Regions from separate parts of the Homo sapiens genome. Here region 1 is linked to region 2. The links come from fine-mapping of genetic effects on gene expression. A gene starts in region 2. The other region holds a variant in brackets. All regions are shown on one strand. Distances are between the middles of the regions.

Region 1 (2,754 bases), 110 kb before region 2:
ATGACCTGAAGGAGCTGAAAAACACAGCACGAGAACTTCATGAAGCATACACAAGTATCAATAGCTAAATCGATCAAGCAGAAGAAAGGATATCAGAGATTGAAGATCATTTTAATGAAATAAAGCATGAAGACAAGATTAGAGAAAAAAGAATGAAAAGGAACAAAGCCTCCAAGAAATATGGGACTATGTGAAAAGACCAAACCTACATTTCACTGGTGTACCTGAAAGTGACAAGGAGAATGGAACCAAGTTGGAAAACACTCTTCAGGATATTATCCAGGAGAACTTCCCCAACCTTGCAAGACAGGCCAACATTCAAATTCAGGAAATACAGAGAAAACCACAAAGATATTCCATGAGAAGAGCAACCCAAAGACACATAATTGTCAGATTCACCAAAGTTGAAATGAAGGAAAAAATGTTAAGGGCAGCCAGAGAGAAAGGTCGGACTACCCACAAAGGGAAGCCCATCAGACTAACAGCGGATCTCTTGGCAGAAACCCTACAAGCCAGAAGAGAGTGGGGGCCAATATTCAACATTCTTAAAGGAAAGAATTTTCAACCCAGAAGTTCATATCCAGACAAACTAAGCTTAATAAGCAAAGGAGAAATAAAATCCTTTACAGACAAGCAAATGCTGAGAGATTTTGTCACCACCAGGCCTACCTCACAAGAGTTCCTGAAGGAAGCATTAAATATGGAAAGGAAAAACCGGTACCAGCCACTGCAAAAACATACAAAATTGTAAAGACCATCGACACTATGAAGAAACTGCATCAAGTAATGGGCAAAATAACCAGCTGGCATCATAATGACAGGATCAAATTCACACATAAAAATATTAACCTTAAATGTAAATGGGCTAAATGTCCCAATTAAAAGACAGAGAGTGGCAAATTGGATAAAGAGTCAAGATCCATCACTGTACTGTATTCAGGAGACCCATCTCACGTGCAAAGACACACATAGGCTCAAGATAAAGGGATGGAGAAATATTTACCAAGTAAATGGAAACAAACAAACAAACAGAAAGGGTTGCAATCCTAGTCTCTGATAAAACAGACTTTAAACCAAGAAAGATCAAAAAAGACAAAGAAGGGCGTTACATGATGGTAAAGGGATCAATGCAACAAGAAGAGATAACTATCCTAAACATATATGCACCCAATACAGGAGGACCCAGATTCATAAAGCAAGTTCTTAGAGACTTACAAAGAGATGTAGACTCCCACACAATAATATTGGGAGACTTTAACACCCCACTGTCAATATTAGACAGATCACCAAGACAGAAAATTAACAAGCATATTCAGGACTTGAACTCAGCTCTGGACCAAGCAGACCTAATAGACATCTACAGAACTCTCCACCTCAAATAAACAGAATATACATTCTTCTCAACACCACATCCCACTTATTCTAAAATTGACGACACAATTGG[A/G]AGTAAAATACTCCTCAGTAAACGCGAAATAATGGAAATCATAACAGTCTCTCAGACCACAGTGCAATCAAATTAGAACTCAGGATTAAGAAACTCACTCAAAACCTCACAACTACATGGAAATTGAACAACCTGCTCCTGAATGACTAGTGAGTAAATAACAAAATTAAGGTAGAAATAAATAAGTTCTTTGAAACCAATGAGAACAAAGATACAATGTACCAGAATCTCTGGGACACAGCTAAAGCAGTGTTTAGAGGGAAATTTATAGCACTAAATACCCACAGGAGAAAGCAGGAAAGATCAAAAATTGACACCCTAACATCACAATTAAAAGAACTAGAGAAGCAAGAGCAAACAAATTCAACAGCTAGCAGAAGACAAGAAATAACTAAGATCAGAGCCAAACTGAAGGAGATAGAGACATGAAAAACCCTTCAAAAAATCAATGAATCCAGGAGCTGTTTTTTTGAAAAGATTAACAAAATAGATAGACTGCTAGCCAGACTGATAAAGAAGAAGAGAGAAAAATCAAATAGACACAATAAAAAATGATAAAGGGGATATCACCACTGATCCCACAGAAATACAAACTACCATCAGAGAATACTATAAATACCTCTATGGAAATAAACAACAAAATCTAGAAGAAATGGATAAATTGCTGGACACATACACCCTCCCAAGACTACACAAGGCAGAAGTCGAATCCCTGAATAGACCAATAACAAGTTCTGAAATTTAGGCAGTAATTAATAGCCTACCAACCAAAAAAGCCCAGGACCAGACAGATTCACAGCCGAATTCTACCAGAGGTACAAATAAGAGCTGGTACCCTTCCTTCTGAAACTATTCCAAACAATAGAAAAAGAGGGACTCCTCCCTAACTCATTTTATGAGGTCAGCATCATCCTGATACCAAAACCTGAGACACACACACACACAAAAGAAAATTTCAGGCCAATATCCCTGATAAACATCAATGAAAAAATCCTCAATAAAATACTGGCAAACCGAATCCAGCAGCACATCAAAAAGCTTATCCACCACCTTCAAGTCAGCTTCATCCCTGGGATGCAAGGCTGGTTCAACATATGCAAACCAATAAACATAATCCATCACTTAAACAGTACAAATGACAAAAACCACATGATTATCTCAATAGATGCAGAAAAGGCCTTCAATAAAATTCAACACTCCTTTGTGCTAAAAAGTCTCAATAAACTTAAGTATTGATGGAACATATCTCAAAATAATAAGGGCTATTTATGACAAACCCACAGCCAATATCATACTGAATGGGCAAAAGC
Region 2 (2,754 bases):
TTGCATCAGAATCATCCAAACTGTTCTCCTTGCTTCCTGCTCTGACCTCTTCCAGCCTGTTCACAACCAAGCACCTGGAGTGATCCCTGGAGGCTCCAAATCCTTCAGGGACTTTACGTGTCATGGACAATAAAAGCCAAAGGACTTCCAGTGCCCCACTATCCCACATGCAGCCTGAACCTCTATTATCTCTCTTACCATACTTCCCACTCTTCTAGCTATTCACTGCCTCTGCTCTAATCACTGCTTTTCTTTGAATACATCACGCACAGTCTTGCTGTATGGTCTTTGCACAAACTGTGCCCTCCGTCTGAACGGCTCCTCCAAAAATAGCTGCCTGGCTAACTCCAACATCTTTCTCAACTATTGCTTTCCAATGAGGGCTACTCTGACCATGCTATTGTAAAGTGCAATCCAATACCCCATGCCCAGCACTGTGGATCTCCCTTGTCCTGCTATATTTTTCCATGGCATTTATTGCCTTCTAACATACCATATATTTTATTATGTGATGTTTAGTGTCACCCTTTCGTCATCCTGTGAAAAATCTACCCTCACAGGGTGAAGATTCTTGACTCTTTCATTCATTAACAAATTTTAGGAACACAGAACAGTGTCTGGTTCACAGTTAGTGCCCTACAAGTTTTGCTGAATGAATGAATAAGGGTAATGTGTATATCAGAGTAATGTAAGCATAACCAGGTAAGCGATGAGTACATGGTAGCAATGATCATAAAAGGATTCTATTATAAATTATCACTGGACTAAAAATGGCAGTCCTAGTACACAAGACACGTACTTGCCATCACTAAAACATTGCCTACCCACATGATGCCCTCTCTCCACAAAATTGATCCCTGGTGAGGAGTAACTATTGACCGCCCACTGAGTGGTGACTCCTTATGCTAAGCACCACGAATACAAGGGCAGGAGCAGGATTTTTGGTTGCACAGCCGGTGTTTCAGGCACCCATCCTCCCAGGGAACCCAAGAGAAGAGCCCTGTATCTCCTTAGTAAATGCAGAACCCAAGCTCCCAAGCCATTTTCCCCAGGCCATCCTAATGGCTCCCTCAGCCTTGATGGGAGAAGCCACGATGTTCCCACCCATCGCCTTTTAGTAGCCACAAGAACCTGCCCGCCCACCCACTGCACGCCCATTGGTTGGACAGTGGTAGAGGCGGGCCCTGACGAGCGCATGCTCAGAGGGAGAAGTCAGCGGAGAAGCTGGGAGCTCCTTTGGAGGCTGCGGTGTCCCTGACTCTCCTGAGGGGGGCTCACTAACGGGTGGGTCCCATGCCACAGTGTCTGAGGAGAAGCAGGAAGTGAGTCCCTGAGGAGACGCCGTGACCTGAGGGCTTCCCTTACTGAGGAGGCCTCGTGCTTCATCTGCCACAAGCGGTGCCCAGGCCGGTGGTGACAACTGGGACGATGCTCAGGCTTCTGAGACTTGCTTTGGCCTTCTACGGGAGGACGGCCGACCCTGCAGAGCGACAGGGCCCACAGCAGCAGGGCCTCCCACAAGGTATTCCTCTGTGTGTCCCCTTGTCCCCCACCCCAGAAGCCTCCCAATAGGGGTTCTCCTCACCCCCGGAATGAGGCTGTTGTAACTCGGGTGGGTACTGCACGTGACGGTGGCTCCATCTTGTGCGTGCATGGGGAGGCAACCCGAGGCAACCCGAGTCCTCAACAATTCCCTGAGAACCAACCCCCAAACTCTCCTGTCCATCTAAAGCGGGAAGGTGTTGACAGAGAAGACCTTGGGGTCTGTACCGCCTGTGCTTTTCCCCCACGTGGTCGCACAGCACATGCCTATTTATATTTCCAGTAGGCGAGAAACTCCCTAATTTGCGAGTTAATTTAGGCTTGTATCCCAAACGGGAATGTAATTTGAAGCCAAGTTGATGCCTCATACTTATCTGATCCCAAAGGAAGGCAGAGAACCCCTGCCGGCGACTGCTGAGGTTTGATCCCTAAGTATTGCTGATCAGCTAGGCTTGTGCAGAATAAAAAAAAAAGAAGAAGAAGAAGAAGGAGAAATAAAGAAAACCATTCAGATGCCGTTTTGGGCTAGCCTTCAATCTCCAGATATCTTTTAGTACTTTGTCTGCTGAGATGGTTAAGTATCTATAGAAGGTGCTACTCATCATGTTGGTGATAATGATGAAGGAATATAATAGGAGCAGAAGCTTAAAGACTCATATGTAGAAATGCTAACAGGTAACATTTACACACTCTTGTGCAAGGCACTCAGAGCTCTCGACAGTTGATGTGCATGTGTCAGTTAATATTCGTAAGCTGGGCGCGGTGGCTCACACCTGTAATCCCAGCTCTTTGGGAGTTCCAGGTAGGTGGATCACTTGAGGCCAGGAGCTGGAGACCAGCCTGGGCAACATGGCAAAACCCCGTCTCTATTAACAATTCAAAAATTAGCTGGGTGTGACGGTACACACCTGTAGTCCCAGCTACTGGGGAGGCTGAGACATGAGAACCACCTGAACCCAGGAGGCAGAGGTTGCCGCTAGCCCAGATTGCGCCACTGCACTCCAGCCCCGGCGACAGAGCCAGACTCTGCTCAAAAAATTAAAAAATAATTAAAAATTAAAATTTTTAAATTTTAATAAATTTTTAAAAATATTTTAAAAACCTACAACAACCCTATTAGGCGAAATTGTGATTGTTGTGGATTGACAGATGAAAACAAGGTCAGAGACGTTATAAAACTTCTCTGCCCAGGGTTATGCAGATGGTGAGTGT

Direction of the effects. Positions count from the first base shown, and alleles are read on the strand shown. Sizes are in standard deviations (SD) of each study's normalised expression.
For the expression in cerebral cortex of the gene that starts at base 1,202 in region 2, G is the low allele of the variant in region 1 and A is the other (moderate effect, 0.68 SD a copy in GTEx).

What was found. PIP is the estimated chance that this variant, and not a neighbour inherited with it, causes the effect.
Region 1: its variant is fine-mapped to the expression of CT55 in cerebral cortex (GTEx, PIP above 0.99). The same link has a PIP of 0.9 or more in amygdala, anterior cingulate cortex, caudate, hippocampus, hypothalamus and nucleus accumbens.

What each region holds. Positions count from the first base shown.
Region 1 is chrX:135,278,589-135,281,342 of GRCh38, reverse strand. It overlaps a transcript of ZNF75D not described here. Among named protein-coding and RNA genes, the nearest start is that of ETDA, 28 kb to the right of the region's middle. The variant A/G (reference allele first, on the strand shown) is at 1,445.
Region 2 is chrX:135,169,846-135,172,599 of GRCh38, reverse strand. It overlaps CT55 (cancer/testis antigen 55), which reads left to right and starts at 1,202. Exons shown (of 6, transcript NM_001031705.3): 1 at 1,202-1,522. The coding sequence starts at 1,429.